2 separate regions of the Homo sapiens genome follow, and region 1 is linked to region 2. A link means that fine-mapping ties the variant in region 2 to the expression of a gene that starts in the linked region. Tissue or cell type: whole blood. Region 2 holds a variant in brackets; the other region holds the start of a gene. All regions are shown on one strand. Distances are from middle to middle.

Region 1 (8,143 bases), 150 kb before region 2:
TCTAGCTTATTTCTGGAATTTCTGCTAACATACTAATTGTTATCTTTTTTCCTTTAACACTTAAGCCATTTAGCCCTTACAACAATCTCACAAGGTATTATCTTTATGTTTAAGGAACACCAGGGTTCAGAAAGCCTAGGTATTTTGTATAAGGCCACAGAGCTAGTGTGTGCCCACAGAGTGCCTGTGTCAAGCACACAGAGATGCTGAGAGCTTGAGAAAGACCCACCAAAGCTTATAATGCCAACCTCACAATCTTCAATCAACACGAGAGTCCCTGAATCCCACATGCACATCTGCACCATCAAAATACTGGGATGCCACCTGTTCACCTTCTTGAGTTATGTTAACTAAGAAAATGAATTTAAGGGCACAGTGAAAATGCATTATACAGTTCTATGTGCCAGGACTGTGCTAAGCACGTTACATGAATTATTTTATTCAGTCTTCTCGAGAGCCCTACTTAGTAGGGTTTTTGTTGTTGTTTTTGAGACAGGGCCTCACTCTGTCACCCAGCTGGAGTGCAGTGGAGCAATCTCAGCTTACTGCAGCCTCAACCCCTTGGGCTCAAGTGATCCTCCCACATCAGTCTCCAGAGTAGCAGGGACTACAGGTGCGTGGCACCATGCCCAGCTAATTTTTGCACATTTTGTAGAGATAGGGTTTCACCATGTTGACCAGGCTGGTCTTGAACACCTGAGCTCAAGGGATCCGCCAGCCTCGGTCTCCCGAAGTGCTGGGATTACAGGCATGCAACACCTTGCCCGGGGCTGGAAGTAGGTATTCTAAGCTGCAATTTACAAGATAGGAAAACTGAGGCTGTTAACAGAGATTAAGCAGCCTGCCCCAAAGTGCCTTAGTTGAAGGAGCAATACTTCCAGAGTATTTTTTTTCCATTAAGTTTGGTAGTTACAGGAGTGTTAGACACTCTTATATTCAGCTAAAAATATTTTAATTAAATATCTAGACAATGACTTTGCATAACATTGATTTTTGGTTGCTACCACACATCTTAATAACCAAGCACCCTTTGGTACAAGTTCAGTGGTTAGTCCACCTTAAGTCTTTTTTTATAGCAAGGATTGGTAAATGACAGCCCGTGGGCCCCATCCAGCTCACTGCCTGGTTTTGTGAAGTCCCCAAACTGGGAATGTGGTGCTTTTTAAAAAATTTTTCTTAATGACTGAAAAAAATCAAAAGAATATTTCAAGACATGTGAAAAGTACATTAAATCCAAATGTCAAGGCCTATAAATACAAATTGTATTAGAACATAGCCAGATTCATTCATTTACATGTTGTCGTATAGATGCTTTTGGGTTATAACAGCATAGAGTGGAGAAGTTGTGACAGGGACTGTATGGGATGCAAAATCTACGATATTTACTATCTGGGCTTTTACAGAAAAAGTTTGCTAACCCCAGTTCTATAGCATGATACAATTAGAGGTTCTGGATTTTTTTCTATGAAATTCCAAAAAAAATTTTACCTTCTTTTTCCAGAAAGAACACCAAAGCAGTCTTCCTATGAAAAAAGGTTGATAGCCTGGGATGATTTGAAATCACACCATTAGGTTATAGTTCCAGTGACTGGCCAGTGGGTCCAGCTTGAAAGACCCCCTCCCTCATTTTAAATACATTACAGTTAGCTCTAGATGGTAAAGCTGGGTCTTACTACCCAACCTGTCCTCCCGTTATTCATCTTGACTGCGTTATGGGTTTAGTTTCACAACATTATGAGTTCATCTAGGCTTCTTGAATCATTTATAGGAATTTTCATTTTCACTCTCAAACTCTTACACTTTCGCTGCTGTGAATTTTTTTTAACATAAAGCTCAGACTACTAAATGGCCTACACATGTACCATAAAGTCCATATTTTATTTTTTAAGAAATCAGAATTTTTAAAAATTGCTTTTTCTTGAGAAACTAAACTTAATTTTGCAGGTCACGAAAGTAAAAAAATACCTTCATATCCAATGATCTCAAAGCACCTCTTGTGAAAATACATAACAAGGTAATAGAAATATTATTTAATGGAAAAGATGTGACTAGTAAAGTCCAAGGCTATTTCTGGTTCTGCGAATGACTCACTTTGACTTTGGGCAAATCATCTCACCACTGTTGCTCTTTATCTGCAAAAACTGGATTTCATGCCTATGGGAGTTGCATGGCTAATCAATGCCTGGAAAATGCGTAGTGGCAGTTGCTACAAAAGTGCTGAGCTTTAAAAACAAAACCCCCCACCCCCCCATTTGTATTCAGTTGAGGTTGGGGTTTATTGTTATTTAACATTCGAAGGCCAACACTATGTTAAGTCCAGAGTGCTGCACAGATCAGATAATATCACTGTCCAGTAGGGGTTTTTTTTAATCTAAGATTTTTTACTTTTAAAAAATTTATTGTGGTTGGGGGTTTAGAATCCGGTAATACATCCATACAAAAACGTTAAGCTTCAAGTTGAAAACTATCGATTCGAAAATCTAAATAAACCCCCTCCAAAAAAAAAAAAAAAGGCCCTCCCCCGCCCCGCCAAGAAATCTCTCAAAACAAGAATTCTTCTGATGTTTTTCTCCTCCCTGCAATTCTCCATGTTACAGTCCTTGGAGGTAGAATAGGCATAAAATACTTTCACTAATAAAATATGACAAACCGCCGGATTATACGTGGCCGATTCCCAGTGATTGCCCTGCTACACAAAGCAGAAAAGTAAATGCCATCATCCCCCTTAGAACAAAAGAACTTAGGAATAAAAAACATGGAGAGGGGGGAGAAAGCAGCAATAAATAAAGGTGAGCGAAGGCCCCCGTCCCCCGCCCCTCCCGGGAGCGAGTGCTGGACTAAGTACTGCTAATAAAGTGGTTCAAGGGTAGTTATTTGGAAAGGGGGCGGGGTGGCGAGGGGAGGGAGCGGGCGAGCGGCGGCCGGGGATTGCATGTTGCATTCGACTTGAGGTTGCATCTTTCTCCTGTTGCCTGGACCACGCTCCCCCATTGCAGTGCTTCCCCATCACTTCTCCTCGCTCCTGCCCCTCACGGCTTTCCCCCCCCCCCTTCAAACTGCTGTTGCACTGGAGGGAGTTGGGGCCGCTCTGGAGCCCCTTTGCAGCTCCCGCCGGCGGGAGGGGGGAGTTGGGCTCGGGCCGCGGAGTTGGGGGGGCCGCCGCGGGCTCCGGCCTCGCCTCGGCTGCGGCTGCACGGGAGCCGAGCTGCGGCGCTGCACGGGCCCCGGAGTTTGGCTGCCTTCGCCGCCGCTCGGTGCTCGGCCCCATCACCGCCGCCGCCGCCGCCGCTGCACTGGAGTTTGGCTGCCGCTGCCCTACTTCACTCTAGTTTAGTTTCACTCACTTTACATCCGGGTTTTTTCCCTAGGCAATGGGTGCCGCAGCACACCCCGTTCCTTAGGCAAAGTGAAATAAATTCGCCGCACCGACACGTCAAGTAGTCCGCCCGCCCGAGCGCCGCCGCGGGCCCCCGTCGCCCCCCCCGCCGACGCCCCACCGCCCCCGGTGGGGGGACCCGAGCGTCCCGGGAGCCGCGGGCCGAGGCGCGGGGGCCCGGGCCGGCCGCCGTACCACTCCGCCCGGCGGCCCCCTCCCTCCCCGCCGCGGCCCGCTCTCCCCCGGCGCCTCCTCTCCCCTCGCCCTCGTCCCCGCTTTCCCAGCCCCAGTCCCTCTCGCCCGGCTCTCGGGAGCGGCGGGGGCGCGCACGGCGGCGGCGGCGGCGGGCCGGCGGGGCCGCGCGGCGGGCTCCCGCGCGGGCGAGTGTGTCTGGGCCTGGGCGGAGGGATCCCCGGGCTGAGGCGGCGGAGGTGCTGCGGCCCGGGGCCGGGTGGTGAATGGGCTGGTGGTGCTCGCTGCTGCTGCTGAGAGGAGGAGGAGGATGAAGAGTTGGGCTTGTTTGTCTCCTACAGTTTCTCTCCTGCTGCTCTGATTCCCCCCTCCCGATTCCGGCCCGGGGCCTGTGTGTGTCCCTCCTGGAGGAGGAGGAGGATCCAGTTCCTCCCCCCAACCCCCTCCTCCCCACCCCCCCTTGCCTGGGGAAGAGGAGGAAAGAAACAGCCCAGAGAGAGAGAGAGAGAGAGAGTGAGTGAGAGAGAGAGGAGAGGAGAGGAGGAGGAGGAGGAGGGAGAAGGGAACAACCTACCATCTTAACACACTAATATCTAAAAAGTGCGAGAGGCCCAGAGCAGCAGCAGAAGCAGCAGCAGCAGCTCCAGCTTCTTCCCTCCCTCCCCATGAAGAAGAGTTCCCTCCTCCTCCTCCTCCTGCTTCTCCTGCTCAGAGTTCCTGCCTCCAGCTGCCAGGGGGGACAGCCAGCCAGCAGCAGGAGGGTGCAGTATCCCAGCTTTTCCATTCTCTCTTCTTCTCACTCTCCTCTCTCTCTTTTTTTCTGGAGTAGCTCTATTTCCCCTCCCTCCCCCTTCCCCCTCTGCCTCTCTCCTCTCTCCCTCTGTCTTGTCGCTGGTGTTTGTCTCTGGGAGGATCAGGGGCTGCCTGCTTGGAGTTTGTTGTGGGGGGAGGTAGGGGGAGGGGAGGGGTGTGTGGGAGGGAGGAGGGAAAGGGGGGTGTTCTCGTCAGGACCCCTCAGTCAACTTGAGATTTGAGCAATAACTTCCCCTTCGGGGCGCCCCCCTGCGTGCCCTTCCCATACCTCCCCCCCGAAAAAAAAGACAATGGGAAAACCTTGGCTCCCCCCCCTCCCCTCTGCCCTCCACCCCTCCCCAGGATAAATTGGAAGTAAGTTTATGAGCAGCCTCGGAAGCCTGGGCGCAGAGTGCAGGGCCGGAGCCGGTGACAGAGGCGGCGTGCCGGGGGCGGCGGGGAGGGGGCGTCACATTGTCCCGGCGGGGGGCCGGCCGGGGGCTGCGGGCGGGGGCGGGGGGCACGGAGCCTCGCCCGCCCCCCCTCGGCTGTCCCTCGGCCGGGGAGGTAGCTGGGGCTCCTCCATCCCCCCCACCCCACCCCGGGATGCTGTCGGGGGGAAGTTTTTATTATGATTATTTATTTAATTAAAAAAAATTTTTTTTTGGAAAACCATCTTGTTTGTTGACTGAGGGATCTGGTTTAAAAAAAAAAAAGCTGCGGCTGCTGACGCTGCCGGGCCCCAGTGTGTGTGTTTGTGTGTGTGTGAGTGTGAGTGTGTTGGTGCATTTGTCTTGGGTGGCCGGAGCAGCGTTGGGGAAATTCCGCTTATTCTTCTTCTTCTGCAACTTGTTATTCCGGAGAGTCTGCCTGCACCCCTCACCCCGGGGCCGGCCCTCCCGCATTCGCCCCCGCCGCCGGCGGCCGCGGGGCGCCCCCGGGACCCCGAGCGGGCCGGGGCGGACAGGCCGCTCCGAGAGGGGCCGCGGCCGCCCCTCCCCCGCCCGCGCCCCCGCCGGGGGGAGGGGCGCGCGGAGTGGGACTCTTTCCGTTTGGTCCAGCCCCGTCGTGCACGCAGTTCCCAACACTTCTCGTCATCCTCTCTTTGGTCTCTTTATTCTGCTGAGCGGTGCTGTTAGGATTTCTTTTTTTTTTTTTTCCCCTGACCACGTTCGCGATGGTGGGTAGCAGCAAGGTGGCCCTGGTAGGGGAGGGGTTGGTATCGAGATTGGGCACCGGAGGAGAACGCCTTCTTTCAACTTTGTCTGTGGCTTGCACCCCCGGAGAAGGCCACAGGCCGGTTGTCGGGTGCAGATGTGCCGAGAGTGATTTCTAAGTAGTTGAGTTGTTGTGATGAGGGTACGACTGCTAATGGTCGGCAGGTTTTGTTTTCATTGGTGAATCTGGTGTCATCATATTCCGGTCATATGTTGAAATATTCTTTGTTTAGGTCTGGAAGTAGAGGATCTCACTCTGCACGTCCACATTGTGTTGTTTTTAAAATGATGTCTCTGGGAGTCTGGATTTCTAGAATTTCAAATCTGAGTGAAGGTCCGGGCATGTGTGGGCCTCATCACCTGGCCTTGACAGTGAACTTTGTGGCTGTGTTTCAGATTTCAAAGATTTGCCCCATAGCTGGGGAAGGAGTTGTGCATTTTTGCTAATAGTCGGTGTCAGGAATGTAGATGCTCGAGCTGGGAAAGTTAGAGAGGGAAGAACATTTATATATAAATAATGGATAGTTGAATATTAGAATCAGATTAATTTGGGCTGATGAAAGTTTTTTTTTTTTAAAGCAGTTGTGCACTCTGGGAAGGAAGTCTTTTCACAGGTTCACTTGATAGGGATTCTTTAAGGCGAGGGGCTGGAATTATCTCCTTTTTGAGCGAGTTCTCACCAACATCTGTAGCTTTATTGAGGGCCTGGTAAGGGTACTGAAATTGAGGCTAAACCATGTAAGCGTACTTTTCAGTGTTTATGATATTTGTTTACATCTGGTGTTCACTCTAAGCAATAGAAATAAATAGGTCAGCTTTGCTTTTGGTCTTTGAAGACTGGCCCCCTCCTTCCTTTTTTAAGTTTCACAATTTATTTGGTTTACAGCATTGTTGGAAACTGTTACTACATTTTTACTGGAAATACTATTATTCATTTTAATTTTGGTAAGTTCCTTCTTATTCTCTTCTTCTGTCTTTACTTGTTTATGGAATCGGTGTTGTGGGCTTAAAACTAGTTTATTTTAGGGGGTCATTAAAAATGTCTGAAAAATACATTTTCAAATCCCAGGACCTATCTTTTCATGGCAAAGAGGAAATTTTGTGTACAGTTATGCTAATGTTTATAAAAAAATTTCTGTACTTAAAACGTTTGTAGATGTACAACTATCCTTAAGTGAAGAGCATAGTAATAGTGCACAAAGTTCTCAAAACACAAACATCTGGCTAACATGTTACGAATATTCCAGGGGCTTTTTTTTTTTTTTTTTTAACATCAGACTTTTGCTTTTGGTAACATAATAGTATTTACAGTTTGACTGACATTGCTTGGCTGCCCATAATAAAGTGTTTTGCTTGGGTGCTATTGAATGCTTTTTAACTTAGTTTTTAGACAATTTTGCAGGCTTTATTTAAGCATGTTGTATTTTGGACTGAGGCAAGTCTTTGTGGAACTGGAGTAGTAATAGATGAAAAAGACACCTACCTGGGCTAAATTGTATTTTTAGAAGGTATAAGTGATGGATGGGGCCTATTTCTTTTAGCTTTGAAGGGTCCATCCTTTTTCCTATTCAGTCTTCTGGAAGGAGCTGCCTCTGAAATACTCTTCTTCTGCTTACATGAAGATCTCTAAATGCTATCCAGCAGGAGGTGCTACAGCAAGATAAAGGAAATTTTTGAATTTTGAGGGTCTTGCTACTTATTACAGCTCTGCTTAGCTTCAGCTAAGCAACAGGATTAACACCTTAAAGTTCCAGAAAGATTTTGAGTAAGTCCATTTAAAAATTCCATTCATAAATAATGTTTGCTACTTGAAAGTGAAGTCTTTGACTGTACAAAGTAGATGTGCGATTGCGGATAGTATAAGGATTCTGGCCCTTGGTACAGAGCACTGTTTAGAATTATTTTATTTGGAAGGGGAATTAGTCTTGTGTTGATGAGTGGGATGTTGAGCATGTATTTTAAAAAATTATTTGTAATTGTTATAAACAAAAGTAGTTGGTATGATTTAGGGCTTTAAGCCTTGTTATCATCCCTATAATATTAATACAAATAGGATATAGAGTAGTTGAGATTTTGGAAAGGGGTATAGTGTGTTGAAAAAATTTTAGACTTCTTGTAGTTTTTTCCCCTCGGATTTACAGACTATGATTCTAATATAGATCAATTTTTAGGCACTCGGCTTTATAAATACATATGGTTGATGTACTTAAGTTAGCCTGCAAAGACTGAGATTCTTGAACTGTAAGTCAAGTTGTATCAGTGGTAGGTCATTGTTGATGTAACAGTAACTGCATAAAGATGAATATAGCTACTTTAACAGTTTCATAGCATTTATAGCACATGGTCCTTTGAAACTCTGTTAGTGTTAGGTGAATTGATTATCACTGAAAATATCATGCCACTGTGGTTGCTTGTAAAGTTTTGTGTCGAAGTTTTAAAAATTTGGGGATGCTAGAAAGTTTGATAAATCTGCTTTGAATTTTGTCTATTTTGTAGGCAAAATACTGTTTTCTCAGTAAGACCAAATGAGATAATACATATAAAAGTTCTTCATAAATGGTAAGAA
Region 2 (8,000 bases):
AATATCTTTTATTTCTTTTTGTCTTCATTTGGTAGAAAAGAGTAGTTGAACAGCTACGGAAGAACCTGATAGTAAAGCAAGAACAACCGGACAAGTTCCAAATACAGCCATTGCCACAATCTGAAAACAAACTACAAACAGCACAGCAGCAACCACTACAGCAACTACAACAACAGCAGCAGTACCACCACCACCACGCCCAGCAGTCAGCTGCAGCCTCTCCCAACCTGACTGCTTCACAGGTAAATGTGTGGATGGAACATTGCAGGCTGCAGATTGTAGACTGATTTGTTGTTGGTCATATAGAACTGGGTCCTGTCTCACACTATACTAAGCTCAGCTAGAACTAAACAAAAGTTATTTTGATTGCTTTTTTACAGTATAACCCAGATAAGTATCACTTGTAATCATTGGCAGAAGGAAATAACATTACTAAGAAGCAAAAATTAAATGATTTCCCACCTGTCTGAAGAAGGGGAGAAAGGTAGTCAATAACAAAAATCAATTATCTGCTTTACAGCAGAATTAAAACCTTATTTTGAATTTTTGGAGGTATTTATTTACACTTGTTCTAAAAGTTTGTGACTTGACCTCTTCTGGAATTCTTAGCAACTAGGCATAGAGCTATTCCAGGATCAGTGCTCTTGGGACCAGATAGAAAGAAGCATTTGGAAGGGTGCTATGGCTGGGCTCAGTAGCTCATGCCTGTAATCCCAGCACTTTGGGAGGCTGAGGTGGGCAGATCACTTGAGGTCAGGAGTTTGAGACCAGCCTGGCCAACGTGGTGAAACTTCATTTCTACTAAAAATACAAAAAAATTAGCCAGGCCTGGTAGCAGGCGCCTGTAATCCCAGCTACTCGGCAGGCTGAGGCAGGAGAATCACTTGAACCCAGGAGGCAGAGGCTGCAGTGGGCTGAGATCACACCACTGCACTCCAGCCTGGGCAACAGAGCAAAACTCCGTCTCAAAAAAAAAAAAAGAAGAGTGCTATATTTGCACTATTCATAGAAACACTCATTTTTAAGCCCATATTTATAAGAAAATGTATTTGTTCTAATACACTGATGGGAATCTGAAATGAAAGCTACAGGTCAAAACTAAAGAAATGGGAGCTTAATAAAATTCTAACTTGGTGTAGCTGTGCAAATGTTTTTACCAAAAAGGGCATTTAAACAAGCATACAATTTAAGAATCGTGAGGCAATCAAGATACACAAAAAGGGCGTATTTGGAAATGATATTCCAAATGATACTTGGATCCTTGAAGGTCACAGATCCCTTTATGACTCTGTTGAAAGCTATAGATCCCTCTCCAGAAGAATATACATTCACACTTAATACACTCATTTTTGCACACTTCAAGGACTTTGGGATCCTCTGAAACCTAAGCGTGGATACCTCTTACAACCAACACCAGGTCTTCACTGTGTCTTTATATAGAGAGAAAAAGAGTATAGTTCAGTTGGCTGTTCACTGTTTATGGACATTGGACTGGTTCATGTGCAACATTTTGCAAGTAAAGAATGAATTTTTTATAAGAACACTAAAGATAAGTTAACATTTAATAGAGGTTACTGTATACTGGCAGTCTCCTAAGTGTTTTACATAATGGACATACTCCTCACCCTAATCCTAAGAGGAAGTTATTATTATTACCATCTCTGTTTTTTTGTTTGTTTGTTTTTTTGTTATTGTTTTTTTGAGACGGAGTCTCACTGTGTCACCCAGGCTGGAGTGCAGTGGCGCAGTCTTGGCTCACTGCAACCTCCACCGTCTTGGGTTCAAACAATTCTTCTGCCTCAGCCTCCTGAGTAGCTGGGACTACAGGCGCGTGCCACCATGCCCGGCTAATTTTTGTATTTTTAGTAGAGACAGGGTTTTACCATATTGGCCAGGCTGGTCTCGAACTCCTGACCTCGTGGTCTGCCCGCCTCGGCCTCCCAAAGTGCTAGGATTACAGGTGTGAGCCACCGCAACCGGCCCACCATCTCTGTTTTTTAGAAGAGAAAACTAAGGCACAGAGAGGTTACATAATTTACCTAAGATCATGGAGGGTGGTATGTGGTGTAGCTAAGATTTGAACCTAGATGTTCTGGCTGAAAAATAGGTCCATTCAACTACTCTTCTGTACTGCCATTCAATACCAAAAAAAAAAAAAGAAGAAGAAGAAAAAAAAGAAAAAAGCAATACCAATACTGTATAAAACCAAAGAAGGAAAAAGAAAAATCCCTGTTGTAAATCAGATAGCTAGGACAGCCTACATAAATTTTTACCCTAATCACCACCCCAAGGCTATTTGGAAATTAGGCATTCAAAACTGACTTTAAAAATCTCCTTACCAGCACTTGTATTAGTTCTGAAAGAATGTTTAGAGGATAATTTTTGTTTAAGTTTTAAACAGAATTGGGTTAGGTTGTTCTCTTTCCAAAGTACAGGTTGATCAGAAAATGTTTATCTGAAAGGAGTGTGGTAGAATTCATTGTTTCCTGTTACATAGGAGTTTTCTGTCTTAACCCATGGAAACATCCTGTTCAAGTAACATTTTATGTTATAAAAATCAAAGGAGGCTAGGCACAGTGGCACACGCCTGTAATCCCAACACTTTGGGAGGCCGAGGTGGGTGGATCACTTTAGGTCAGGAGTTTGAGACCAGCCTGGCCAACATGGCAAAACTCCATCTCTACTAAAAATACAAAAATTAGCCATGCGTGGTAACATATACCTGTAATCCCAGCTCCTCAGGAGGCTTAGGCATGAGAATCACTTGAACCCGGGCAACAGAGGTTCCAGTGAGCCGAGATCGTACTGCACTCCATGCTGGGCGACAGAGCAAGACTCCATCTCAAAAAAAAAAAAAAAAAAAAATCAAAGGAAGCATTTCCAAAATATAATAGCTTTTCCTTTCCCTGGTAGTCTGTGTTGCTTTGGGATGGTGAATGGTAAGAGGCCCAGGGCTGCCTCCAAAACAGTGTTGTATAGCACCTCTCCATCCAGTAGCCCACCTGACATATTTAATTGATTTTGCCAACCTTTTTTAAATATTGTTTTATTTAATGCAAATGATGCAAATGTTTAATGTTAAAAACCAAAAGGATCCTCTGAGTTTTTGGTTTTTGAGTTTACAGGTAAACTACAAATCTGGTTTTTGGTGTTTGTTTGTTTGTTTTTTAGACAGGATCTGGCTCTTTGACCCAGGCTGGAGTGCAGTGGCACAATCTCAGCTCACTGAAACCCCTGCCCCAAGCCATCCTCCCACCTCAGCCTCCCGGGTAGCTGGGACTACAGGCACAGGCCACCATGCCCAGCTAATTTTTGTATTTTTTGTAGAAACAGGGTTTCACCATGTTTGCCAGGCTGGTCTCAAACTCCGGAGCTCAAGTGATCCACCCATCTCGGTCTCCCACAGTGTTGGGATTACAGACATGAGCCACTGCGCTTGGCACTACTAACCTATTTATTGGTACTACCAATCTATGTGGTAGATTCTGGTATACAAAGAGCAGTGGTCCCTGCCAAAAGTCTGGTATATCATTATTAATAATTTTTATTCATTCTGTAAATATTTGTGGAGTTCCTACTGTGTGCAAGCACTGTTCTAGGTAATGTGGAGACTAAATTCACAAATCAGAGAGTTTCTATTTTCAAGAATTAAAAAAATTTAAGATGTAGAGAAATTTTGAGGACAGAGTAATTTTGACTAGAGGGATCAGAAAGTACTTGTCAAGGAGGGTTGCATCTGAGCAGGGCCCTGTCAGATGAATGGGATTTTAGTGATAGAGCAAAGGGGAAAGAGCTTCACAAGTATAGAGAGTAGTATGAACAAAAGGATGGCGTCAAAATAGTAAATGTATGCCCTGGGAATCGTAAGTAGGCTGGTGTGGTTGGAGTGTGTGATCCACGAAACGATGGAGAGGAGATAAGGCCAAGCCCTCCAAAGCATGCCAGAGCTTCTGGGTTTTTTAACAGTCATAGGGAAGTCTAAGGCAAGGACAAATGGGAGGTTATATATGGCATATATTAAATACATATATTTAATGTATGAGGGCAAGGACGAATGGGAGGTTATATATGGCATATATTAAATACACAACTTCAGAAAGAATTAAATATTAAGTAGCAATCGGGGGGCCAGGGGGAGATGCTAAGAGGAGAAAGTTTTTTATTCTAAGTCGGGTGATTGGCATATACCAAGGCGTAGAGAAAGCAATGAGGAATTCTTTTTGGGAGAGGGAATGGGAACAGTTTGCTTTACTTAGTTAACGTCAACTCATGCTTATAGGTGTATTTTAAAAGTTTTCCAATCTACAGAAAAAGTGAAAGAATAGAACAGTTAAATACAGGTATACTCTCCAACCTATATTCACAGCCCTCTAATTTTTAATGGCATAATGCAAATGTAAAGAAGAAAGCAGTTAATAAAACCAAATGGAAAACAAACCTTTGGAGACAAAAAAGGGAAAAGTTTCTATTTGTGGTTGTTTGAGTATACATCATGACTGCATTCAAAATTAAACCAGCAAAATAATATAAAACAGATGTGGAAGTTAGATCCCATAGTAATAATCCCTTAAATTCTGATTTGTATATTGGAGTTCATCTGTTTTATTTTATTTTGTTTTGTTTT[A/GTTTTGTTTTGTTTTA]TTTTATTTTATTTTATTTTATTTTATTTTATTTTATTTTATTTTATTTTATTTTGTTTTCTTTGAGACAGGGTCTCACTGTGTCACCTAGGCTGGAGTGCAATGGTGCAATTACGGTTCACCTCAGCCTTGACCTCCCAGGCTTAGGTGATCCTTCCACCTCAGCCTCTCAAGTAGTTGGGACTACAGGTGTGTGTCACCATGCCCAACTAATTTTTGTATTTTTTGTAGAGGTGGAGTTTCACTATGTTGCCAAGGCTGGTCTCAAACTCCTAGGCTTAAGTGATCCGCCCACCTTAGCCTCCCAAAGTGCTGGGATTATAGGCATGACCCACTGTGTCCAGCCTGAGTCCATCTGTTTTAAATCAATACTTCATATTTGGCAGGCAGACAACAATGACTTAGCAAATAAATAAATAAATAAAAAGGATTTTGCTATTGGCAGTATTTGCCATGCCATGTATTTCTGCATTAACTTCTAGCTCATGCAATTTGGGTTTTGTCAAAATAAAGGACCCCATCATGAAACTGTGGAGAAACAGCTACCTTCTCTTAAAGGTGATCATACTTAGACACTGTTAACTAGCTAAAAACAAATCACAGCTTTCATATAAATAAATCTCTTGGTTGGGTGTGGTGGCTCATGCCTGTAATCCCAACACTTTGGGAGGCCGATGTGGGAGGATTACGTGAGAGCGAGTTCTAGACCAGCCTGGGCAACATAGCGAGATCACGTCTCTACTAAAAATAAAAAAAATTAGCCAGGTGTGGTAGCACCTGCCTTTAGTCCAAGGTACTCAGGAGAATGAGATGGGAGGATTACTTGAGCCCAGGAGGTCAAGGCTGCAGTGAGCTGTGATTACGCCACTGCACTCTAGCCTGGGTGACAGAGCAAGACCCTGTCTCAAAAATAAATAAACAGCAATAATAATAATAATAATAATAATAATAATAATAATTTGTCGTTTGACACCTTTCTTCTCTATGTCTCTTCTTCCTCCTTCCAGAACAGTTCAGACATTTTAATTAGACTTGGATTTCAAAGTTCTAAATTCCTTTTGTCATCTAAACCCAGGAGTTTGGTTTGTGTTCCCTAATACTTGGGAAAGAAGAAGCACCAGAGTAGGGGTAAAGATCTAAGCACTACCTGGGTCTTGGTGTCAATAAATAGTAAATATATTCTTCAAAAAGTTTTCACTGAAGCATACAGTACTAGGTCTTGTGCCTGTATACTAGACAAACAGGTATGTAGATGCTAGAAATCATGTAGTGAAATCAGCCATAACCATAGTTGTAAAATAAAAGAAAACTGCTAACCTAAGATGTGAACAAACTTGTTAGGTTTCAGTGTTTTTAAAGTGTTGGGTTAATGGTAAGTATATAATTCAGGTGAGTTTGAGGCTTTAGTCAGTATTTTGTAGAATCATCAGTTTAGAGTTATTCAAAATATTGATGATTTACTTGAAACAAAAGTACATTGACTTCTCTTAAAGCAGTAACAACATGCGTTTCTTTAAAATCCATGTCAGTGAGTTCTGACTAGAGCTTTACTCCCACAATCCACGATAGCACTGGATTGAACGCCATCTGGTGTGACTGGATCACCACTTCAGAAGTTCTTTAAATCGACATGTTTTAAATGGAAAACAAGGGCTAATACACTGTGGTAAAAACACTTACTACAAATTGCTGATAATGCAGTCAGTCCTTGCTGTTACACTACTATTAATATACCATTTCTAATAATAAATAGCATTTGGCTTTTATTTGGTTTTCATCACTGATCGAAGATAGGTGATCCACTGCACCCCAAAATAAATATCAGTGTTCCGCGTTTACTCTCATTTCACATTTAAGGAGGCAATGGCAAAGAGAATAAGCCACTTAGCGAAGAGGAAACAAAGATTTGGATGATGATCTTAAAAGATTAGATAATATGTGTATATGCGCATAAGGCAGAAAAATAGAGATAAGTAACTCCCTAGAAGCAAACAACTTAATACCCCTAAGTAGAAAAGCATAGACACTGAAATAGAAATTCATAAGGGAAGTTGTCCAGATGTGTTTCTGAGAGAATGGAGGTACTTTTCACTGGTATTGCACAGTGATAGAACTTTCTGTGATGTTGGAAATACCGTCTATCTCCACTGTCCAGTTTGGTCACCACTAACCACATGCGACTTTTGACATTTGAAATGTGGCTAGTGCAACTGAGGAGCTGATGTTTTAATTTTGTTTTTGTTTTAATTAATTACATTTAATTAATTTAGTTTTTATTTTTATTTATTTATTTTTTTTTGAGACGAAGTCTCACTCTTGTCGCCCAGGCTGGAGTGCAATGGTGTGATCTCGGCTCACTGCAGCCTCTGCCTCACGGGTTCAAGTGATTCCCCTGCCTCAGCCTCCCGAGTAGCTGGGATTACAGGCGCCTGCCACCACACCTGGCTAATTTTTTTTTTTGTTTTTGAGACGGAGACTCGCTCTCTCACCAGGCTGAGTGCAGTGGCACAATTTCTGCTCACTGCAACCTCCGCCTCCCGGGTTCAAGCAATTCTCTTGCCTCAGCCTCCCGAGTAGCTGGGATTACAGGTGCCTGCCACCAGGCCTGGCTGATTTTTGTATTTTTAGTAGAGATGGGGTTTCACCATGTTGGCCAGGCTGGTCTCGAACTCCTGACCTCAGGCAATCCACCCGCATCGGCCTCCCAAAGTGCTGGGATTACAGGCACGAGCCACCGCACCTGGTCTACTTTTTGTATTCTTAGTAGAGACGGGCTTTCGCCATGTTGACCAGGCTAGTCTCGAACTCCTGACCTCAGACGATCCACCTGCCTCGGTTTCCCAAAGTGCTGGGATTACATGTGTGAGCCACTGCGCCTGGCCAATTAATTTCCTTTTAAATAGCAACTTGTGGCTAGTGGCTGCCAAATCAGACAGTGCAAATATACAGTAAAGGTGGAGTAGTATCAAAATCAGAATCAATGAGTTTGACCAGATAAATTTTCATGTTCCTGAAATGTTGATCTATCTCCAGATAGATGTTTAGGCCATATAATGAGTTTGTTTATATTTTTTTGTTTGTTTTGTAACTGATTCCTTTAATTATTCTAGTAAAAAGTCTAGAAAAGTACAGCTTCAAAGCTGCAATAGCACTTAAGGAGCATCAGTCAAGTCCTCTCACCTCAGTTCATCTTCTGATCTCTCAGGCTTTTAAAACTCAGATGTTTGTTTTCACCTTGTCATGTTTCATTGCATCTTTGATCACTTCTGCAGCAGTTCTCCAGAGAAAAGATTATAGGTAGTAACTCATAATATCCCTTTAGTATCAAGAACTGGTATTTACTATATACTCATTGGCTAACATGTTTCATTATCTG

The links. PIP is the estimated chance that this variant, and not a neighbour inherited with it, causes the effect.
Region 1: it holds the start of PHF21A, and the variant in region 2 is fine-mapped to the expression of PHF21A in whole blood (INTERVAL, PIP 0.96).

Annotation. Positions count from the first base shown.
Region 1 is chr11:46,117,121-46,125,263 of GRCh38, reverse strand. PHF21A (PHD finger protein 21A) reads left to right here and starts at 3,810. Exons shown (of 19, transcript NM_001352027.3): 1 at 3,810-4,329. It overlaps LOC105376661 (a long non-coding RNA gene), which reads right to left and starts at 3,119. Exons shown (of 3, transcript XR_931252.4): 1 at 1-3,119. RefSeq lists silencers at 2,978-3,287, 3,728-3,787, 5,201-5,280, 5,351-5,410, 5,594-5,751.
Region 2 is chr11:45,972,002-45,980,001 of GRCh38, reverse strand. PHF21A (PHD finger protein 21A) reads left to right here. Exons shown (of 19, transcript NM_001352027.3): 7 at 36-242. Among named protein-coding and RNA genes, the nearest start is that of LARGE2, 53 kb to the right of the region's middle. The variant A/GTTTTGTTTTGTTTTA (reference allele first, on the strand shown) is at 4,625.